Linked DNA regions of Homo sapiens: all the other regions are linked to region 3. The links come from fine-mapping of genetic effects on gene expression. A gene starts in region 3. Each other region holds a variant in brackets. All regions are shown on one strand. Distances are between the middles of the regions.

Region 1 (8,186 bases), 530 kb before region 3:
AAACGGCTACAGTTTGAAATCAGTTTTTTGTGCAACAGAGGAAACAGCTGAGCATGCAGCAGTCTTTTCAACTAAATTCATACACATCCAGGATAATCAACAATGGTAGCATCATCTTCAAATAGGCAGCACATGGGCCCATATTGATATTGACAGTTCACAATTGTGGACAAGTTTGAAGTAAATTAATGTACAAACTTTTCACGTGAAAGCCTGAAAGCATTTCACTGAAGGCTGGGGAACATTTGCACGTCTCCTTGATTGTCTAACCAAACTTTTTTTTTTTTTTTAAGTATGAACGAATCCCTACCCTGCCCTGTTCCCGCTTAATGTCTTTCCTCATCCAAATGACAATGGTATGTTTGCCGCACAGCCTGCCCGCTACTGACCCCTGCTCCCAGGTCTGTGAAAAAGACCCGGCCTTAGTGAGGTTTGTCATTCAGGAAGCTGCTCAAGTGTTGAGGGCTGCAGAGAATTCACTTCTGCTCAGTCCTTGAAGACATTTCTCTGGGCGTGACTTCCAGACTCTGGTGGGCATTGGCGAGAACGACAGAGAGAAATGATGCAGTGGTCAACAGGACTTCCACACAAATGTCAATGCTTGGTGAGGAAAACACTGCTTTTAATCTTCCTGTGTGGTTGTTCATAAAGAACATCCGTGCTTTCTAGACATTTCTTTTGCCTTTTCCTCTCCTCCCAAAAGACTGTGGTTACTTGTAGTCAGCCCCTTCTCCTGGCCTTTCCATTTTCTCCTCAGAAGGACCACCACTCCATTTCATTTACCTACATGGGCTTTGCACCCCTCCTTGGAGCACTCGCCCTGCTATGGCTTCTCTTTCTCACATAACTTCCCACCCCATTCTCCGCGCATCTCAGAGGACTATTCTCCCAGATCATCTCATCCTGCCCAGCAGGAAGTCACAGCTCACATCTTAGCCAAGGGGAGGGGTAGAGATGATGCCAGTGGAGAAGGATATCAACAAAGGAGGAGAGAAGGAAAGGCATCAACTGAGACTTTTCAAGAGTGGGAAAAAGAGACATGAAAGGCCTCTGGAGCCTGAAAAATGAAACTCATAAGTGGGGGAAGACTTGGCTCCCCTTTCTGTCCTGCTCCAACTTTATTTATCATACTTTAGATATCTATTTTTTTTTCTTTCTTCTTCTTTTCTTTTTTTTTTTCCTTGAGATGGAGTCTTGCACTGTCACCCGGGCTGGAGTGCAATGGCGTGATCTTGGCTCCCTGTAACCTCCGCCTCCCAGATTCAAGTGATTCTCCTGCCTCAGCCTTCTGAGTAGCTGGGATTACAGGCACCCGCCACCAGGCCCAGCTAATTTTTTGTATTTTTAGTAGAGATGGGGTTTCACTATGTTGGCCAGGCTGGTCTCGAACTCCTGACCTCATGATCCACCTACCTCGGCCTCCCAAAGTGCTGGGATTACAGGCGTGAGCCACCGCACCTGGCCTAGATATCTATTTTTATTAGAAATAATTTTTGAAAAATGTCTGATATAGTGAGTAGGACATTATAGACAATCAGTAAGAGACAGTTATTAACGTATTGCTTTTTAAGACCCGAGTAACTCAAATCAGTATTGGACAATTTGGTTCAAACCATGAAGCAAAAAGTTAGTTTTGATAAAAGCCAGACCGTACTTTTGGTAAACGTTTCTCTCTGTTATAGTACACAGATTGTGGCAGTCAGTTGTGAGGGACAGCATGACAACTTATGATGACAGTCACCAAGTACTGAAATTTGAGTATGATAATTTTAGAGACAGGACAGTGTTAATGTCAAGACCTGCATTTCAGTCCCACACACATATTACTCCTGGAAATGTTCTGCAACCTCTATAGGCCCGTTTCCTAATCTGCAAAATGAAGATCCTACAGAACAAACCACACAGGGTTGGTTGTTTCTAGCTCAAATGGGATCATATATGCAAAGCTCATGGCACAGTGCTTAGCATAGAGTAAGCACTCAGTAAAGGCTGTCCATTATTAGGATTGTGATTTTTAAAAAGAGAGCACATTCAGGTTTGTCCTTGTGAAGATATCAATTTTATGCATTTGCCTACTGATTGATTTGCTTTCCTGAGAGACAAAGAAGGGGACATGTTTTAAACGTGCCTGTTGGGAATATAGGAGCCATGAGAAACTCATCTCTTATGCAGGAAAAAATATCAGAAACCACACACTGGTAGGTTCCCATCCACTCTATGACCTCTGCCAATCATATTTCTGACCATGTCACATTCCCACAGAACACTTTCCATGAAGTGGTGTTTATTAATTCATTCGGCAGTTCATCACAGGTTAGACTTATTTCACTCGAGCTTGAGAGCAATTTTGTGCTATTAGGAAAGATGTGAGAAGTCATTTATGGGACGGCAGGTAGACTCAATTGGTGACAGGGGATTTGTTGACTGTTTCACATTATAGGGCGTTTTCCAAATTCTAGGACTAGATGGTGTATGCTAATTCATTTGACTAACAACTGTAGAGCATCCACTTCTTTTAGGCCCAGGAATAGGTGCCAGGGAATCAAAGGTACATTACACAGCATCACAGTCTGGTGAGAAACATGAGGTCTTATACACAGCTGAATAAATATTTGTTGAGGCAACTGGGAAATAAACCCTTACTTAATTCTGTGTGTTCTTAGAGAGCTTAGAGCAACCTACCCTAAGAGGGCAGGGGAGGGGGCTGAATGCTGTGGTTGTGACGGGTTTGTTGCCTGTCTCTGCTGTGCTTCGAGAGCCCTCTGTGTTGACCTTCTAGCAGTCTCTCTAGGGCTCAGTGAAACCCTCTCAGAAATAACTGTTACAAAGTCCCAGAAAAGCACACTGGGATGTGGCCAATCTCAACCCCAACAAACCACTCTTGGTGCCTTTCAAAGTCTGTAAACCCAGGAATTGTGTAATGCTCTGGTTTCCATTCCAGTTTGCTCAGTGGCTGAAGCACAGCTTGCGAAGGACTTTGGATATAGAGCATCCGAGGCCATATGCAAACACGCCATCAGAAAGTGCACTCTGAGCAGCAGCCACGCACTGAGCAGGGACTGCCAGAGAGGGAAGGGGTGGGGTGGGCGCTATTTGCAGAAAACAGGCCTGACTCCCTGCTCCTTAGCTCACTACTGCCCATAGCGAGAGCTGCTTGGCTTCATGTTGCCCATTCAGTCTCACCTAGGTGCCAGTCTAGACCAATGCAGTTCCCTAGTTAGGGAGAATTTAGGGGGCCCAAGGGCAGTAACACAGTGGCAAGGATCTCGTCATATTTCCAACTGACCGTGTGCTCAGCCTTTAGGAGTTGAGCCAACTGCATTTTGTTTTGTTCTTTGTGACTAAATAGACCACCTTGTACCCTGCTTACCGTGACTGGCACCTGTCTTGTTCTTTGTACCCCAACCTTTGGAGCCTTGTTTCTTTAACTGGCAGGTGAATCTTAAAGCACTGACTTGAAGGGCTGTTTTGGGCAGTAGATGAAA[T/C]AGCTTGTGAGGCATCTGGCACAGAGAATATGTGCCATTTGTGCTGGTGTCTGAGTCTTGACCTTTGTACATTCTGTCCCACTGGTGTTCTTGGAGCCTGGAGTTCTGCCTCTGAACAGGAAGCATGATTGTTCTGGTGTCGAGGACATTTGGTAGAGTACAGTGGAAAAATACGTGATTTATTTACCAATACTGTCATCCTTAGTATCTGATGGGGATTGATTCCAAGATTCCACCATACAAAATCAGCAAATGCTTAAGTTCCTTATATAACATGGTGCAGGATTTGCATATAACCTACATGCATTCTCCTGTGTGCTTTAAATCATCTCTAGATTAGTTATAATACCTAATACAATGTAAATGTTATGTAAATAGTTGTTATGCTGTATTTTTTACTTATATTATCTTTTATTGTTGTGTTGTTATGTTTTATTGTTTCTCTTTTACAAACATTTTCAATCCACGGTTGGTTGAGGCCTCAGATGTGGAACCTGTGGATACAGTGGGCTGATTCATATGTGCCATAAACATCCCTGACTCTCACCCCATCTTTGACTTTCATTCCTTCTTTGAGCCTTATTCAATACTGGTCATCACCTGATCCCTTACACTCACCCCATTCCTGACAGGGTGTCTTCTAATCAGTTCTTGAGTTTCTTCAAGGGTTTAAGCCTCAGAGACCTCCTCAGGGGCATAGGGAGCACCAGGCTGCTATGCTAATGTGCAGGGAATTGAGTCTAGCCCACCATCTCCTGTTGCCTCCTCTTCCTCAGCTCTGGTTCAGTTGCTTGGGGAGCTGTCCCAAGAGAGATCAGGGACCAAATGACACTGGTCCCTGTCCTTCCTGTCAACTCCTCTTCCTTAGGCTCTGGAGGCTTGAGGGGAAACCTGGCCAGGTTGAGGCTGGAGAGGATCAAGCCATGAGCCCTGGAGGGTGGAGTGGTAGAGAGGACTGAGCGCAAGACCGGGAGTCAAGTGACCTGACCCATTCCCTGCCGTGTGACCTAGGCTCACCCCACATCACTTTAGGAAATGTAGGCAAGATGTAGAAACCAAATGCAGAGGTGAGGGTCTGCTACTCTTCTCAGCTGAAGAATGTCAAGGAAAGCCCATTTGAGGGAAATTGTATGGCACCAATCTCTACTCTGAATAAAAAGAAATGATGCTGAAATTAAGGCCTTAGCTTATTGGACTGAAAGAGAAGGAATCAGAGGGAAAACATTTGTAACATTTGCTCTGAATTTGTCATGGTCTAAGATCTTTATCAGTATTTAATTTAAAAGGAAAAATAAAACCACCTGGCAACCTCACAGTGGATATTGAATTACAAGCTGGATAAGTTGTTAAACACCTATGCAAGGCAACAGAGATAGAAGAGTGGAGCCAAGGGCTGTGGCACAGACTCCCTGCCCAAGCCCGAGACAAAGTCAGAGGGGCAGATGCACAATCACAGTGTCTCTCATTTCTACAGGAGCTGGAGTCAAGAGTGGTGTGCTTTCTGAACAACTGCCCTGGGTGGGTCAGAGAAAAGGGATCGATCCCTATCTCAGAAGTGAAAATGAAAAAGGTGCTCTAAGGGGAAAAATTATTTATGGTGTACTCTGAGTCTGACAACGTGGAATTAGTAAGAGAATTGTCTTCTATTGGTGGCCTTTTTATATATGTATATATAATTTATATATATATATAATTTATATATAACACACACACACACGTGCACGCACACACACACACACACACCCCTGCATATATCTTATTGGTTCTTTCTCTCTGGAGAGCCCTGACTAACATTGTCTCCTTTGCTAACAAGTTCCTCAAGCCAAGGTCCTAGGCCTTCTTTTCTTCTCACTCTAAGTTTTGCTTGTTTTCTTTTTTCTGTTTTTTTTTTTTTTTTGAGACGGAGTCTTGCTCTGTCGCCCAGGCTAGAGTACAGTGGCGCGATCTCGGCTCACTGCAAGCTTCGCCTCCCGGGTTCACGCCATTCTCCTGCCTCAGCCTCCTGAGCAGCTGGACTACAGGTGCCCGCCACCACACCCAGCTAATTTTTTGTATTTTTAATAGAGACGGGGTTTCATCGTGTTAGCCAGGATGGTCTCGATCTCCTGACCTGGTGATCTGCCCACCTCGGCCTTCCAAAGTGCTGGGATTACAGGCAGTTTTGCTTGTTTTCTATGCAATTTTTTTTTCTGCCCATGACCTCAGTTGCCATCTGCATGTGAATAACTCTTAAGTTTATATTCTAGCTCAGAGATCTCTCTCTATGGATCTCCAGACCCACACATCTAATTGTGTACTTGGATATCTGAAGGGCATCTGAATGCAACATATGCAAAGGTAAATTCATGATCCTGCAACCCTGATCTTCTTTCATGGTTCCCCACTTCTGTGAAATGTACCTCTCTGTATCGGAAAGACCTGGAGCCATTCCTAACAGCTCTGGCTCAGCTGCTTGGGGACCTGTCCCAAGAGAGATCAGGGACCAAATGACACTGGTCCCTGTCCTTCCTGTCAACTCCTCTTCCTTAGGCTCTGGAGGCTTGAGGGGAAACCTGGCCAGGTTGAGGCTGGAGAGGATCAAGCCATGAGCCCTGGAGGGTGGAGTGGTAGAGAGGACCGAGAGCAAGACTGGGAGTCAAGTCCCGGTTTCACCTCTTAACTCTGTACCTAATCCATCACCACATCCTGCCAATGTCACTTCAGAAATTTCTCTTATATCTCTACTTCTCTCAAGCTCCACTACCACCACTCAAGCTATGGGTATCTCTTATCTTGACTCCTATATTAACTTTGCAAGTTGCAAGTTGCAAGTAGCTGCCTATTCTCAGTCTGTCCTCTAAATTTCTTTCTTTACACTCCAGCTATAGTGATCTTTCTAAAAACTAAGTCTGATCCTATCATTCTGTGCCATTATGTGTTGGAAATCATACCATGATTGGTTCCCAAGGCTCTACATGGTCTTATCCTGCTGCAGTTTTCCCCTTGCTTTCTAGACTCCAGCTAAACTAGCTTTTTCTTTTAATTCCTGAAAATGAAGTCCCCATCATGGGTTCTTTGAATATACTGTTTTTACTCTAGTTTTAAGAATTTGGAATATTCTTCCCAACTTCTCAGCTATCATATCAGGAGTCATTTCCAGAGGAAACTGTTGTGTTCCACACACCCCTTCCTCAGCCTAGTCAGATTCCTTTATTACACAATCTCATAGTATTTCTCTAAATCAAAGCAAATAATAATAGCTAAGAATTATCACGTGCTTGCCAAGTTCAAGTGTCAAGCACACTGCTAAATATTTTATAATTGTTATATCTAAATATTATCTAATTTAAAATTAGAGAAATAGCCAGTATTATCATTCTTATTTTCCAAGAGAGGAACCAGAGAACCTGGGTGATATGCTGACAGCATATTCAGCAGTGTGATGAGTTTAGTGGATATTTGGTTCCCCCACTGGCCTGTGTACTTGGAATGAGCTGGGGCCACTGTTCATGGATCAGCACTGTTAGAGGACTGCCTGGCATGTAGAATGTGTTCCATATGTACTTGTTGAATGAAATAATGAATATTCAAATGAGAAATGAACCAGGGCATATTTTAACATGAAAACTGGGTATTCCTTTTGTTCGCTATACCAAATTAGTCACCTATGAGATTGTTTACAAAATTCTAGACAGCTGCTTGCAAATGAGAAAATGGCATTCCTAATATTGGAGATGCTTTAGAGTAGCCTCCACTTTTCATTTTAATGACCATCTGCTCCATTTCCAAATGAGGCACCAACTCAGTTTAATTTTACACACAGTTAAGAATGATTTTTTTTTTAGTTCCAGTCCTTTTGGGGCTTCTAAAAGCACACACACTCAAGCACACACTTAGAAAGATGCATACTCTCTGTTAGGTCCACACCAGCAGCTGTAACAAATAAGCCCTAAATTTCTAAGCCTTAACACAATAGGTGGTTATTTCTTGTGTAACAACCTAGCGTTGCTGCTTGGCCAGAAAGCTTTTCACCTGGTGATTTGGGAACCCAGGCTTTCTTCACCCCATGGGGCCCCCACCTGGGGGGGTCTCAGAGCTCCTTTACTGATGGCAGCAAGGCAAAAAGCATAGAGGAGGCATACCTCCTTCCTCAAAACCCTGGCTTCCAAATGAAGCATGTCACTTCTACTCATTTTGCATTGCTAGAAATTTATTATGTGGCCATGCCCAACTCTAAGGAAGGCTAGGAAATGCGGTCTATCTATATGTCCAGGAAGAAAAAAGAGAAAACACATCTGATTGAATCATCAGCATTCTCTGTCCCACCCTTGTCCTCATAGTACAATGCAGAGAGATGCTGTAAGATTAGTAAAAAGTGCCCTCGGGTAAGGGAAGAAGGAGCTTAATTTTCACTGTGGACATCTGAAAAGGCATGTGGAGGAGTGAATTTTGAGTGGGGCTTGAAGAATAAGCAAGTCCTTGATAGGAAGAGATGGCAACAGGCATAACTGAGATGAAAACCAGTGCCAAGAGAGAGGAGGTCTGAAGCCAGGTGGGAGTAAGAAGGCGAAAAGAAATGTATGCCTGTGCCTTGGTCTGTGTGTAGGCAACTCAGAGTCAAGTGTAAATGTTATTTTAATAATCTCTTTGTCTTGGTTTTCCTGTGCTCCTTCTTTAAGTAATTAAATAACAAACAGAATCCCACCCTCCACCGTGAGTATC
Region 2 (8,186 bases), 510 kb before region 3:
GGAGACTTTAACACCCCACTGTCAACATTAGACAGAAAGTTAACAAGGATATCCAGGAATTGAACTCAGCTCTGCACCAAGCAGACCTAATAGATATCTACAGAACTCTCTACCCCAAATCAACAGAATATACATTCTTCTCAGCACCACATTGCACTTATTCCAAAATTGACCACTTAGTTGGAAGTAAAGCACTCCTCAGCAAATGTAAAAGAACAGAAATTATAACAAACTGTGTTTCAGACCACAGTGCAATCAAACTAGAACTCAGGATTAAGAAACTCACTCAAAACCGCTCAACTACATGGAAACTGAACAACCTGCTCCAGAATGACTACTGGGTACATAACGAAATGAAGGCAGAAATAAAGATGTTCTTTGAAACCAACGAGAACAAAGACACAACATACCAGAATCTCTGGGACACATTCAAAGCAGTGTGTAGAGGGAAATTTATAGCACTAAATGCCCACAAGAGAAAGCAGGAAAGACCTAAAATTGACACCCTAACATCACAACTAAAAGAACTAGAGAAGCAAGAGCAAACACATTTAAAAGCTAGCAGAAGGCAAGAAATAACTAAGATCAGAGCAGAACTGAAGGAAATAGAGACACAAAAAACCCTTCAAAAATTCGATGAATCCAGGAGCTGGTTTTTTGAAAAGATCAACAAAATTGATAGACCGTTAGCAAGACTAATTAAGAAGAAAAGAGAGAAGAATCAAATAGATGCAATAAAAAATGATAAAGGGGATATCACCACTGATCCCACAGAAATACAAACTACCATCAGAGAATACTATAAACACCTCTACGCAAATAAACTAGAAAATCTAGAAGAAATGGATAAGTTCCTCGACACATACACCCTCCCAAGACTAAACCAGGAAGAAGTTGAATCTCTGAATAGACCAATAACAGGATCTGAATTGAGGCAACAATTAATAGCTTACTAACCAAAAAAAGTCCAGGACCAGACTGATTCACAGCCGAATTCTACCAGAGGTACAAGGAGGAGCTGGTACCATTCCTTCTGAAACTATTCTAATCAATAGAAAAAGAGGGAATCCTCCTTAACTCATTTTATGACGCCAGCATCATCCTGATACCAAAGCCTGGCAGAGACACAACAAAAAAAGAGAATTTTAGACCAATATCCCTGATGTACATCGATGCAAAAATCCTCAATAAAATACTGGCAACCAAATCCAGCAGCACATCAAAAAGCTTATCCACCATGATCAAGTGGGTTTCATCCCTGGGATGCAAGGCTGGTTCAACATATGCAAATCAATAAACGTAATCCAGCATATAAACAGAACCAACGACAAAAACTACAATTATCTCAATAGATGCAGAAAAGGCCTTTGACAAAATTCAACAGCCCTTCATGCTAAAAACTCTCAATAAGTTAGGTATTGATGGGACGCATCTCAAAATAATAAGAGCTATCTATGACCAATATCATACTGAATGGGCAAAAACTGGAAGCATTCCCTTTGAAAACTGGCACAAGGCAGGGATGCCCTCTCTCACCACTCCTATTCAACATAGTGTTGGAAGTTCTGGTCAGGGCAATCAGACAGGAGAAGGAAATAAAGGGTATTCAATTAGGAAAAGAGGAAGTCAAATTGTCCCTGTTTGCAGATGACATGATTGTATGTCTAGAAAACCCCATCATCTCAGCCCAAAATCTCCTTAAGCTGATGGGCAACTTCAGCAAAGTCTCAGGATACAAAATCAATGTACAAAAATCACAAGCAGTCTTATACACCAATAACAGACAAACAGAGAGCCAAATAATGAGTGAACTTTCATTCACAATTGCTTCAAAGAGAATAAAATACCTAGGAATCCAACTTACAAGGGATGTGAAGGACCTCTTCAAGGAGAACTACAAACCACTGCTCGAGGAAATAAAAGAGGATACAAACAAATGGAAGAACATTCCATGCTCATGGGTAGGAAGAATCAATATCGTGAAAATGGCCATACTGCCCAAGGTAATTTATAGATTCAATGCCATCCCTATCAAGCTACCAATGACTTTCTTCACACAATTGGAAGAAACTACTTTAAAGTTCATAGGGAACCAAAAAAGAGCCTGCATTGCCAAGTGAATCCTAAGCCAAAAGAACAAAGCTGGAGGCATCACACTACCTGACTTCAAACTATATTACAAGGCTACAGTAATCAAAACAGCATGGTACTGGTACCAAAACAGAGATATAGATCAAAGGAACAGAACAGAGCCCTCAGAAATAATGCCACGTATCTACAACCATCTGATCTTTGACAAACCTGACAAAAATGAGAAATGGGGAAAGGATTCCCTATTTAATAAATGGTGCTGGGAAAACTGGCTAGCCATATGTAGAAAGCTGAAACTGGATCTCTTCCTTACACCTTATACAAAAATCAATTCAAGATGGATTAAAGACTTAAATGTTAGACCTAAAACCATAAAAACCCTACAAGAAAACATAGGCAATACCATTCAGGACATAGGCAGGGGCAAGGACTTCATGTCTAAAACACCAAAAGCAATGGCAACAAAAGCCAAAATTGACAAATGGGATCTAATTAAACTAAAGAGCTTCTGCACAGCAAAAGAAACTACCATCAGAGTGAACAGGCAACCTACAGAATGGGAGAAAATTTTTGCAATCTACTCATCTGACAAAGGGCTAATATCCAGAATCTACAATGAACTCAAACAAATCTACAAGGAAAAAACAAACAGCCCCATCAAAAAGTGGGCAAAGGATATGAACAGACACTTCTCACAAGAAGACATTTATGCAGCCAAAAGACACATGAAAAAATGCTCATCATCACTGGCCATCAGAGAAATGCAAATCAAAACCACAGTGAGATACCATCTCACACCAGTTAGAATGGTGATCATTAAAAAGTCAGGAAACAACAGGTGCTGGAGAGGATGTGCAGAAATAGGAACACTTTTACACTGTTGGTGGGACTGTAAACTAGTTCAACCATTGTGGAAGTCAGTGTGGCGATTCCTCAGGGATCTTGAACTAGAAATACCGTTTGACCCAGCAATCCCATTACTGGGTATATACCCAAAGGATTATAAATCATGCTGCTATAAAGACACATGCACACATATGTTTATTGCGGCACTATTCACAATAGCAAAGACTTGGAACCAAGCCAAATGTCCAACAATGATAGACTGGATTAAGAAAATGTGGCACATATACACCATGGAATAGTATGCAGCCATAAAAATGATGAGTTCATGTCCTTTGTAGGGACATGGATGAAGCTGGAAACCATCATTCTCAGCAAACTATCTCAAGGACAAAAAACCAAACACCGCATGTTCTCACTCATAGGTGGGAATTGAACAATGAGAACACATGGACACAGGAAGGGGAACATCACACACTGGGGCCTGTTTTGGGGTGGGCAGAAGGGGGAGGGATAGCATTAGGAGATATACCTAATGTTAAAAGACGAGTTGATGGGTGCAGCACACCAACATGGCACATGTATACATATGTAACTAACCTGCACATTGTGCACATGTACCCTAAAACTTAAAGTATAATAATTAAAAAAAAAAAGAAAAAAACAAAACAAAACAAAAAAGAAATTTTGAGGCTGGGCATGGTGGCTCATGCCTGTAATCCCAGCACTTTGGGCGGCCGAGGCTCGCAGATCACTTGAAGTCAGGAGTTTGAGACCAGCCTGGGCAACGTGGTGAAATCTCGTCTCTACTAAAAATACAAAAATCAGCTGGACGTGGTGGTGCCCACCTGTAATCCCAGCTACTTGGGAGTCTGAGGCAGGAGAATGTCTTGAACCCGGGAGGTTGCAGTGTGCCGAGATCACGCCTCTGTACTCCAGCCTGGGCAGCAGAGTGAGACTCCATCTCAAAAGACATTTTGAGAAGAGTCATAAATCAGGGCAAATATGTGTATACTTCGTGCAATACATATTCCCCTGGAAAAAAGTCGTCATAAATACAAAAGGACCTGTGAAATATGCCTCCATTAACGTAAAATACAACTCTTTCATGGGGCTAAATGCCTACCCTAGAACTGCTCACTACTCAATAGGATTGTGCTGTGTGTGACAGAACGAGAGTGTGAATGGGTCAGTAAGAGTGTACTTTATATAAAAAAAAGTATTCCTTAGGAGAGTTTTGGATAAATGGACTGAATGTTCTTTCATTTATGAGGCTTTTGCTCAGGAAGCCAGTGATGCCAAGTACGCACAGGAAAACCATCTGCTAAAGGTCAAAGGGATGGGTGAGCTGCTACATACAAGACCCTGT[C/T]TTGATGCGGCTCTGCAGAGTCACAGCACCAGCATATTTCTCCTCTTCCTTACCTGGAAGACTGCAGATGCCTTAAATCATCCAGAATCCAACAACATGTTTTCCAAAAACAATAGAGCTACGCCTATTGTGAAATCTCAGGGACGACAGAAAACTCCACATATGCCCACACTATACCACTGCCACAGCAAGTTTTTATTTTTGTAAAGTAATGATCAATTTATGTATAAATGATTACAGTATTTGAGATCCAAGATCCTTGGAAAATCTGATGTTGCAATCAAAACATAATTGAGCTATTTTGGAATAGGAAGTCTATTTGTTCTTCAAAATGCATAAGTATCTAAAAATTAAATGATGACCCATTTAGCCATCTTGTTTAGTGCACTGTTGCTTCACCACAATTTTTTTAAGGATTGGCTCTAAGTAGACTTTCCTGTTTGATGGAAAGTTTCTGTATTCTGAAACCATTCCCCAGCCCAACCAAGGGGTGTGTGTGTGTGTGTGTGTGTGTGTGTGTGTGTGTGTGTTTGTTAGGGTCAAATGAACATTGTCAGCAGTGATGAATTAATTAATTTCCTCAAGTTACCTCACAATCCATCTGCACATCAATCATTTTTTGCAGCCTAAATAACACATGTGTAGGTACTATTATTTTTTCCAATGTGAATATATACCTTTGTGATAAAAAAATACTAATTTATTTAAAAGTGTTGTCAACTTCATTGTACATTTTTGTTATTGCTATTTTTCAATCCACCGATTAAAAAAACATAGCAACTCTCTATGGGCAATCAGAACATTTTAAACATTAAGAAAGAGCTGTCCTTCTTGGATTACATGCGTTGCTCTAACCTGGGGTAATGTATTTCAAGAGTTACTAATAAAATAATTGTAACAAGGGCTTAATAGGGACATGTAATACGATGGAGATATAATAGATATAATAGGATTTTCAATTACGAATGAGTTCCATTATAAGAATCATTAAGCCATTTGGTTATATTAAGATGAAATGTGTAGGCTTAGCCCCAAAGTAAAACATTTGCAAAACAATAGGTATTAACTCTGGGGATAAAAGTGAAATTGTGCGAGGAGCTGGTGGTGCACAGGGATTTCTTTTCATTCTCTAGACCTCTGTATTGTTTGAGGTGTTTACAACAATCATGCATTCAAATATTACTTTATAATTTAAAAAATGATAAAAAACAACCACACAAAATGAGATCAATAGCCTATTTGGGGGCCAGTGAGGTGCTGGCTCCAGGGCCCCTCTCTCAGTCTGTTTTCTTCCACAAGGCTTAAGTTCAGATGCTGAGAATGTTTTCATTCCTTGTAACTTCAGAGGCTGCCCCCCAAATTGACAATCATGTTCACCACATGCTAAGTCCGTGTGCTGGACACTTCACAATGAAGTCTGTCTGAGCTCACAGGGAGGACTGCAGTACAAGTTGTCATCTCAATATCACTTGTAGTGTGGCTACAGGTCTACAGTATATTCCCACCCAACTGTGCCCTGTGGCACAGCTGCCTATGTGTGCAGAGAGAAAGAATGATTCTTGCCTCCTGCCTCCAAACATGTGAAGGGATACCCCACAAAGCTTGTATAAAATCCCAGTCTGTCAGACACCAGGAGATTGTAGTTGGCTGATCCATGGTGGCTTCTCCTCAGTGTAACTCTATGAGAGCTGGTATTTGGTGTTAGGGATGCACCGAAATCATGTGACATTTAATGCCTTTAAACTTGAGAGGCTGTAGCAAATTCCATGCAACACTTGCTAATATGGTAAATCAATCTAAAATACTTGAAATTCTTTCCCCACAAATGTTGTCATGCTGAATTACTCCAGGTTAAGTGTTGTCATGTTGTATTATGGCATGACATTCAGGTAACTCATCATAGCAGATAAAAACATTTATGTCCTTCAGAAAATTTAATGGAAAGCAAATGCACTATTATTTTTTTCCGAGGAATCCAGTCAGATTTTAATAATGCATTATTTGCTACTTGACAAAACACACTCTTACCTAGATTGCATAGTCATAGTACAGTCTTGAATACTGTAGTGCAAACATCAGGGCCTGGGGCTTTGACAATATAGGTCCTTCAGGGCAATAGTGAAAATAAAGCCAGTTGAATGAGACCGGTCTTTGACGTGAAGTGAATGAAAACATCACAAATATAAGACTCAAGTTTCTCATTTTATGTTTAAGCTAGATCTTTAAATTTAAAGTATGGTCTGGAGGAAATGAATTATTTAAAATGAAGATTCACATTTTTTTTCTTCCATCTCCTATGTCTACAATGATTTCTCTTATTCATTCAGAGAGAATACAAACAAAATGGGGTGAATTTTCCAGGGATGGGTTCTTTGATAGACGACAAATACACATCAACTGGTTTTGTTTTCACTATTGCTCTGAAGGATCTATATTCAGGGCCTCAGGCCCGGATGTTTGCAGTATTGTATTCAAGACTATGTCTATAACTATGCATTCTAGCCAAGAGCCTGTTTTGTCAAGTACTAAATAATGCATTTACTCATTATTTACATGTCTGATTGGCCCCTTCACCTTTCACCCTGATGAATTTCTGTCAAATAGAAACAACCCTCAATGGATATATTCACTGAGTGGCTCTTTTGAAATCATTTCTCATGTATGGTTTCCAAACATGGGTGTTTAGACACTGTCTCCTTTCTACAAATGCTTTCTCTAGACTCTGCCTGTCAAAGCTAAATGAGCTTGGGACTTCTAGGCGAAGACGTGAAAGCTGTCCATCTACGCTCTTTATGGTCTCTAAGGACTCACCAAGAACTGGTCTTATTCAGACAACAAGTGCCCATCCCGAGTCACTGACAGAGACAAGGATCAACAGACTTTTTTTGGTTCCTCAGTGGAAACCTCTCTTTTGTGAAACTGAAAAGATGAGTTTAAATGGTGTGAGGCCAAGTTTCCAAAGGCTGTCCAATAGTGAGGAATCATTTCAAAGTCTCAAGGATCTGTGGTCAGGTAGGGAAGCTGAGATGCAGATACTACTAGGCAGATAGTACTTTTAGTGTACTAAGTACTTTCTTTTAGGTTGGAACTTAATTGTATTTGTATATCTTTATGCTTTATTTGATTTTGCTCTGTTGGGAAGAAAGTTTCAGGGGAAGGTTGTGAACAGGGTAGAATGATAATGGGTGTGGGGAGGGTAGTTCAGGTGGGAGTTTTTCCTCCCTAAACATTTTACTTAATGGTAAGAAAGTGTTCCAGAGATTATTTGATTGTGGGGATAAATAATCTTGGGGTTCCAAATTTTTGGAGGCATCATACAAGGATGCTGAGCACTGGCTATTCTGGGAGCTACTTGTATGTTCCATGTTTCTCCTCTGGGGCTTCCTGTCCCAATGATTTTATGTCCACGAAATAAAATGATGGGAAAAGTTTAATTGGACTGCATTAGAGCTAATAGTGAAATTCTATCTTTCACCCAGCATGAACTTTTTATATTCATTCAACAAATGTCTACTGAGAATAGATTCATGTCAGGTCCTATTTTAGGCACTTGGAATAAGTTAGTGTACAAAACAGATAAAAATCCTTGCTCTGGTGAAGCATACGTTCTAGCGAAGAGAAACTATGTGTATACATAAGTGTATACATAAGTGTATACATACACATTGCATTAATAGAACTTTTATTGAAGTCAGACAGAAATTTTGTTAAAACTAAGAACCTTTGTCTGTGGGTCTTGAACACATTTCACATTTCACAAAGTAATTAGGTTGCCCTTTAACATTTGCTTTAAACTTGCCCCTCATTTCTTAATGAGATTACAACCTCTTCACAGCTTGACAGGAACAGAAGAAATAAAGCCAAGCACAAGAAATAAAACCAC
Region 3 (8,186 bases):
TGGCGAAATTCCTTCTGAGAACCTTTCTAGTATGCATGTGTTTTTGTGTGGTGAGAGAGAGCGAAAGAAAGAGACAGACTGAAAGAGACAAAGAAAAAATGAGAATGAACTTCTGATTTACTAACCAGTTGAAGTTTTTAATTCCCCTAACATTGTTAGTTTTAGAAAAAGAATGATTTCACTATTAATTAAAACAAATCGCTATAAACCTCACTTTCTTACCTATTCACGTACAAACACTAATCGTGACTATCTGACAAATTAAATAAGTTTTATTTCATAAAATAATTGTATCTATTAGCATTGCTATTCATATTGATGTGATCTTCTTAGAAAAGTTATCCGATGAGTATTAAAATTAAAATTTTGTACAAGTCAAGAAGTGAATTTAGTGGCCTAGGGTCTTCACAAGTTGACATTACTTGTATTACTAAAATTCATCTAGAATATATGGCAGTCTAAGCTCATGGGCTGCCCTGAAGCAAAACAAGTTAAAGCTTAAGTACATTCGCAGAAATGGTACAATTTGAACTGCTTGTATAAATTAAGTGGCTGGCACTACCCATTAGCTCCCTAAAGCCTGTGCCCACCCCCAACCCCAACTCTGCATCATTTGTTTATGCTTAAACATATTTCCTATGGCCTTATCCTAATATTTATGACCATTGACACAATTCTCTGTACTTGATTATATTTGTCCTACTCGTTTTAAAATTATCTAAAAAAAGATTTCCTCCAAGTAAAAGTTCCATACACACACACACACACACACACACACACACACACGTACACACACAACCTTAAAATGAGCACAAAGGCTCTTAATTCCATTTTAAGACTTGTGGCTTACTCCAATACATAATGCAGTGGATATATAAAATGTTACTTGATGTCAAGGTGAAAAAGCACTTTCTTAGCCAAGTCGTTAAAATTTTCCTTAGAAGTTCCATTTTTAGTACTGGCTGTTACTGATAGCTTAGTTTTAATTGAAGTTTATTTTAAAATTGTTAATTAATAAGTATAACACACTTTAATCCTATTTCCCCCATATTAACCTATGAGGAAAACAAAAAGTTTTACCAGCACATAGTATTGCATAAAAGAAACACAAAACTAACATAAACTGCTTAGCCTGTTTTAGTAACCTTAACAAAGTCCTGAAGGTTTCAATAACTAAAATATTGCAATATTAATCACCTGGAAGCAGGTAAATTTTGTATAGAACAACCACCACAAACTATATACTTTCTTTAATCATATCAGAAAACCACACTTTTAAGCCAGACATGATGAATGCTAAGAAGAAAATACTTAGCACCAATTTTTTACTAGTCCAAATGCAGTATGTGTGACTAAAATCATAATAAAAAAATCCATTTACAGCACAACAATTAAGTGATGAAAACCATGAGACCATCCTTGGACCCAAAACTAACATCACTACTAGTTTATCGTAAGTTATTCATCTGCTTTAAAATAACTTAGTTGTTAAATTGGGAGAAAATAGAATCTTTACAATGAAAAATAACTATCGAAAAATGCCTGACATATTTGGACAGCTCCCTCCTGATTTTCTATAGCATTTCTATTACGTGCCTTACTTTCATTTTCTCTGGTTTACCAAATCAGAAATGAGCCCAATCAAAGTGGTTTCTGCGGTTTGGTTTTGGGTATTTTTGTTGTGTTGTGATTTGTTTTGTTTTGGGACAAAAGATCCCTCTAGTGAAAGAGATTACGGAGCTACATAACAAGAAAAATGCTGTCCCCAGTTCAAGATCCGCCTCCCTGTATTGAGCCAATTTTTGTTTTACCAAAGCTGGCAGGCAGGGAGCTGATGTTCCACCTCCATTCCCTGCTGCAACCCCAACGCCAGTCAAGTACCGGAGCCTCGCCCCATCTGAGACAGTGGGGAGAGCTCCTTAGTATTGAGGTATTTCAAGAACTTTCCTAAGCAGATACTCCCACGGAGACAAGGAGCCACATAGAAAACAATCGCCAAGAGTAAGTTTGTGCGTCCTGAGCAGGGATGGAGAACCCACTGCACTGAACTACGGAGATTCGGATCTGGCCCAGTAGCACCATCCATTTGCAGCAGCGCAAAGAATTCGCCTTCTGCGGAAGGCTTTGCAGCACGGGTGGAACTCTCAACAGCTTTATCAAATAAGATAATCTAATATGAAACAAAAACGCTCTGGAGGCAGCTGGGTACCCTAACCTGGTTACTCTGCGTGGTTAACGTGTCCTAGGTCTGATGGACCAGACCCCAGCGGGCCTGAACTTTGTCGGAAAGCGGAGCCGCCAGGCATTTGGCAGCTGCCAGAGGCGCACCAGGCCGGGTCTCAACCTGGGAGGTCAGCGGGCCAAAGCGGCCTGGGGAGGCAGTGGCCCCACCTGGACGCCGGGCCGTCGGGCGTCGGAGCCCCGCTCTGCCTCCACCAAGCTGTCCCGCTGCGCCCTACGCCGCCACCAGGCAGGAGGAGCCGCTACCAGTACCTCAGAGTGGGACTCTCCATCCTCAAGTCTGCGCTCCAGAAAAGTGTAGCAAGCCTCCCACGCGGGGCTTCAGACACCTAAAAGTCGCCACTCCCCCAAGAGTAACCTCCACCCCCACCCCCACCCCCAACTTCTCTTTCCTCCTTTTCTTCAGCAATGTGGACCAACAGTTACTTTTCCCTCTCTTCCCTTCCCCTCCGAAGTCCCCGGGGCAAAGTGGGACTTTGGGGAGCCTCGTGGAACGCGCCTCTCCCCTGGCGCGCCAGGTCCACAGCTCCTTTTAATCACCGCAATAAAGTTCAATTTGCTCGGCTCTTTACGAGCCACGGTGGACTTTCCCGTGCGCTCCGTGCGTTCTACCTCCCGCCGAGCCAACAGCATCCTACTCACTCCAGCCCAGCTTGGGTCCTTGAAGGACGTCGGGCCACGCAGAGGGGACCCACTGTTCTCGCTGCAAAGTGCCCCAAGCCGCGCGCGCGCACACACGCATCCACATCCACACTCACACAATGCCATCCCCGCGCTGTCAAAGTCTGTGAGCGCGGAAGGGAGAACGCACCAGCTGGAGCCGCACGGGCGCGGGCAGTAGCACAGCCCAGCGTCGGGACACGCAGTCCGGGTCCCAACACCTTCGTCGGGATGCCCCGGCCACCACGCGCCTCGTAACCCCCAAAGACCACGCCAGCCGTCCCGGGGGCGTCGCGGGCGCTGCCGGACAGAACCTTACCCGCGGGGCGCGTGGTCTCCGGCCGCTGGGCTGGCGCGCGGGCCACAGGGACGCTGCAGCCAGGGTCCCGAAGATGCTGCTGCTCCGCTGCCGCTGCCCCGATCCCCGGCGCCAGCATCACTTCTCTGCCGCCCCCGCCTCCTCGTGCTCCGCTCTCTCGGCCGCCCCTCCCCGGCGGCCGCCTGCAAGACCGGCAGCGCCGGCGGCGCGGCGGGGTGGGCAGCAGCAGAGGCGGCGGCGGCGCCCGCGCGAGCTCGCCCAGCTGCACTAGCCGAGCAGCCGCGGCGGCAGCCGAAGCACCCGAGCCCGGCTGCGCTTCCCCGGCGATGGCTCTGGCCTCGGCGACTGACAACGCCCGGCAGCCAATCGCTGCCTCGCCCCGCTCGGCGGGGGGAGACCAATCAGAGCGGAAGGCCCAAGGTTTTCCTCCGCCTTTGCTCAGCGGGCTTGTTTCCGGGAGAGGCAGCGACGCTGCTGGGGTTTGGGATGGGGGAGGCGCGGGAGGGGCGCAGGATGGGGGACTCGTGGCCCCGGAGCCTTAGGTGAGGAGGGAAAGCCGGGCCCGCAGGGGTGGGCCTGGGGCGCTTTCTGACCGCCAGGAGCCCGCGGCTTGGCAGGAAAGGGCGCCGCGGGGTGACTTTGTCCCCAGAGCCTCGTCCCTGCGGTTCAGCGTCTTGGCATCGCTGGGGCGAGGGGGGAGCGGGGAGGGGTCGCGGGACCCGAGTACGAACGGCGCGGCTGGAGAGCGAATCCCAGGAGGTGGTCGCCGCCTTGAAGGAATCACGCGAACAGTCACCAGACAGCGCCCCCGTCCTTCTCCCTTTGGCAGCTGAAAAGAGTACTACTTCTTAGGCTTCGAACCACTCCTCATAGTAATCAGCCACGAAGTGTCCCCAGCTAGCAAAGAGGCACACGGAGAAATGTCGGAGTTGTAGGCAGAGTGGACCTTCCCCGTCTTCCCTCCAAATAAACGCCCCTCACCTCCCCACCCCAAACGCAACAAACAAACAAACAAAAAACCTTGAGAATGGGGAAAGATAATTTAAGCAGCCACCCTAATTGGTTGGCTTCCTTTTTTTCCTTTTTCTTTGGATAATCAAGTCTGAATGTTCTAATAGTTTTTTTTAATGTGTGTTTGACTCAAACACTAGCGAAGTAATGTTATTTAGCAATAAAAGAAAAAGAAAACAAAAGCCACAAAATGTTTTTCTGCACCACTCTCCCCTAAATTGTAATGATCTTCCCTTATGGAACATTTTTAGTTTCTTTAGTACAAATATGTCTGAATGGCTCAGAGTTCTACCAATAAGTTTATATTACAATGTTCTAGTAAAAAAAAAAAAAAAAGTTGTACATGAAGGTTGTAATAAGCTTGGGACCTTCCCAAAGTGACCCTCTGATAAATAGTCATACCCACCTCACAACGTTGTTGTGAGGGTCAAAAATCAAGTGTGTATATCAGCTACATAGTTGACAAATTGCTGGAATTCAATGTGTCTTAGCTATGATGCTGAAGCTCTTCTTGCTAATTGTATTTTTAAGGGATCCTTTTTGTTTGCAATAATAATCACCCTTTTCTTCACTTACCTTACTCTTTAAAAACTCCATATATCCTGTGATCACCAAAACAAACCCTGTCTAAATTTTATTAGCATTATGAGGAAAATTTGATTGCAAAATAGATGTGTATTGCCATCTTTTAGTACTATAGAAATTATGTGCATATCATCACTGTTTTTTCCAATTCTCTTATGCCTTCCTCCCCTTCAGTAATTTGACCAATGTAGTTTGGGAGCCAGATGATCTCTTCTTAAAAGAACTGGCTGTGCTAATAGATAAGTTCATTTTTTTAAAGGCTAAAAACAGAGAATATGGACCACACCACACTAGATTTTTAATCTAGAGAGGGGTTTTTGTTGTTGTTTTGTTTTCAGAAATTGTATATGTAGTTCTTTATTATTGTGCAATGACATAAAATCAGCACCCTAATTGACTATATGAGGTAATAAAGGGGAAAAATGAATAATAAAGGAATAAAAGAGTGAAGCTGAAATCTGGGAGAGAAAGAAAAATATATTTATTCAAAAATATATTTTATTCATGGGGAGGAGCTGATATTTGCAAAATGTAGAAATCTTAAAACTTAAATCTCAAAATCAAAATTAAAATGCAATGACAGTTTAGAAATATGCCTGATAAAAGGTAAGTTTTGAATGATTTTCCATTAAAAGCTAATTTTGACTTTAGAATGTTGTAAGCTATGTGGAAACTTGCAGAAATGTGCTTGCACAAGTATCAATATGATTTTTCTAACCATTCTCCCATGCCCTGCCAATTATGCTATTTTCCAGTATTTTATATCATCTTTCCATGTTATTCAATATTTTGCAACAGTTATCCTTGAAAATACATGGGTCCTATGTACCGTGTTTTTAGAGATTAAGACAATTAAATGACTATCCTACAGAAGCAAAAAAGCTAAAGAAAATCAACAGTCTGCATACAGATATAACACTAATATCTCATATCACTATTGCTACCATATCACTAATGCTGTATAAGCAGCTCTGAGAAAAAACACTTCATAATTAACAACGTACTAATGGTGAAAACCATGAAATATTTAAAATCAGTAAAGATGAAAAACCAAGACAAAATTTTTAAAGTATCTGAAAAGATTGCATGTTAAGTAGGTTTTCATGCATTATTATGAATTTCATGGGATATATTGGACAGAAAGTCCAGTGTTACTTAATTATATGACTGTTTAATAAGAAAATTTAATAACTTTTTTTGGCCTACGGATATGTCTGTTTTTCTCCTTGTGCAATGAGAGAATTCATTCCACTTGTTAATAGTGACAGAAATTGGCTTGGTCAGTACCAGCAATAATGGTCAATAATGATTGACCTAATCCTGAAAGTATGTAAAATAACTTCATATTAATTGATGTGGAAAATCTATATTTATTAGGAATAGGAACTGAATACTTCATTGGGATCCATTATGACAAAAGTTACATCTAGCAGGCAGAAAATTAAATAGGAAGTGAGAGAAATTGGTCTAGTTCCAGCTCTGGTTATGTCTGGGTGAGTAATCATAGGTCGGTCACTTAAACTTTCCCAGTATTCCTTATATGTAAAGTAGAGATTAAAAACAAAATAAAACCTATAGCTGCCTTTCTTAGAGATGAGGATTAACTTATAATTGAAACTACAAGCCACAATGGACTCTTGCAGAAAAGCCCTTCTTAAAAGGTGAAGAATTGGAATTTAATGATAAATACTACCCTCTCTCAAATGTGAATTAGTTTAATTCTTACAATGGCACTGTTCATTATGGATATGTAATATCTATTTCTAAAGATGAACATATTAAGTTTCAAAGAGTTCCTTTACCAATTTTAGGATAAATTGACTATCAGTTACACTTTATTTGTTGATGTTGCCCAGCTTAGAATGTTTTTCCTTTAGTTCCTTCACTATGCCACTTCCAATATTATTAAAATATGCAAGTTTAATGGTTGGCATCTTAATTTAAATGAAGGGCAGACTTTTATGTTTTATTATTGGATGTAAATTACACCTGAAATAAAGCCTATTTCCCTAAATAATATAACTTGTTAGATAATTTCAAATACAGAACACCTCAATTATCATATTTAAAAACTATAAAACTTCTATAAAATAAATATTTGTGCTCATATTATAAGATTGCTACATTAGGTTTTCTTTGCATTGAAAGATTGAAGCAAAATCAAAACGAGAAGACAAGAATGAAAACTAACAGAATAGATTAGATTCTACTAAGTTAATCATAACTAGCATTTTTAAAAATATTCTTTATACCAGGACCTGTGTGTACACACACATCTCACACACACACACACACACACACACAAATATAAGTAAAAGAAGAAAATCATTCATCAAAATTTTGTAGGAAACAGGACTCCAAACAGGCAAGTGTTCAAATTCCTAGCCCTGTACTCTTACCACCACAACATACTCTTTGCTACTGAGATTTGAGAGTTATCAATAAAGAGGAAATCATTGAAACTAAGATAATGTAAAATATTTTGAAGGAAAGAGTATAGTAGGGCAACAAGCCTAGAAGATCATTTATAATTAAGAAAAAGTAAGGATAGTGTTTATTTTGGAGCGGGGGCGAAATTTGATCTGAAAATCAACTCTTGACTGTAAGTATTGACAAGAGATGGTGAGAATGGGTGAGAAGATCTTTGGTTTCCTTTAAAAAGAATTGTGGTAGGGCGATTAGGGTGACAACCATTTGATCCACGCAGAATGGGGAAAGGATAATTCAAGTGGGATATTTACATTAGAAAAGAGTTACGTTTCTTTACGTTCAATATTTTAAAATGGAGGTAGAGTCATGATTTATGCAGAAGGCTGTATAAAAAACTTGAATTGACATAGTTTCATAAAGTCTTAAATTATTGACAGTCTTTATTACTGTTATGTTTAAAACAAAAGCATGTTTAAAGATATGCAATCCTTCATTTGAGTGTTTGTTTATAATGTTATAGAAATCAAGTCATTACCAAAATTGCGGAAAAGATACCTCTTTACCTCATTAGATTCCATTTTCAATTTTTATAATTTAAAATTTGGTCATTTGCTTGAGTAAGAAAATCCAACGTCTATTAATAATGAATTTTTTTTTCTTTAAGCTGTGATTACTTAACAGCAGCTACATATGACATTGGTGCAGCATGACATGGAAAAGTAGAAGGAAGGCATATGCTTGTGTGTGTGTGTGTGTGTGTGTGTGTGTGTCGGGGAAGGGGGAGTAAGGAAGAAGTGAGAGGCAAGAAGGAGTAAGGAAGGAGAAAAGGAGCAGAGTTTTCAAGTTATTTGTAAAGCATTCTCTATGGCTTCATTAGTCAATACTAGGTTCTGAAGCCACTTAAAGCATAGGACACTATAAAATTAATTTTAAAAAATTA

Direction of the effects. Positions count from the first base shown, and alleles are read on the strand shown. Sizes are in standard deviations (SD) of each study's normalised expression.
With allele T in place of C in region 1, the expression in cerebellar hemisphere of the gene that starts at base 3,554 in region 3 is lower (large effect, 0.88 SD a copy in GTEx).
With allele T in place of C in region 2, the expression in tibial nerve of the gene that starts at base 3,554 in region 3 is higher (small effect, 0.30 SD a copy in GTEx).

What was found. PIP is the estimated chance that this variant, and not a neighbour inherited with it, causes the effect. A credible set is the group of variants that fine-mapping cannot tell apart.
Region 1: its variant is the best candidate, but not a certain one, in a credible set for the expression of B3GALT1 in cerebellar hemisphere (GTEx, PIP 0.82).
Region 2: its variant is the best candidate, but not a certain one, in a credible set for the expression of B3GALT1 in tibial nerve (GTEx, PIP 0.55).

The regions. Positions count from the first base shown.
Region 1 is chr2:167,822,480-167,830,665 of GRCh38, reverse strand. All of the region lies in intron 4 of B3GALT1 (beta-1,3-galactosyltransferase 1), which reads right to left. The region is part of intron 4 of B3GALT1-AS1 (B3GALT1 antisense RNA 1); the gene reads left to right. Among named protein-coding and RNA genes, the nearest start is that of B3GALT1-AS1, 110 kb to the left of the region's middle. The variant T/C (reference allele first, on the strand shown) is at 3,486.
Region 2 is chr2:167,799,729-167,807,914 of GRCh38, reverse strand. The region is part of intron 3 of B3GALT1 (beta-1,3-galactosyltransferase 1); the gene reads right to left. Among named protein-coding and RNA genes, the nearest start is that of B3GALT1-AS1, 140 kb to the left of the region's middle. The variant C/T (reference allele first, on the strand shown) is at 4,304.
Region 3 is chr2:167,288,369-167,296,554 of GRCh38, reverse strand. B3GALT1 (beta-1,3-galactosyltransferase 1) reads right to left here and starts at 3,554. Exons shown (of 5, transcript NM_020981.4): 1 at 3,221-3,554. RefSeq lists enhancers at 1,834-2,446, 3,675-4,288 and a silencer at 3,390-3,439.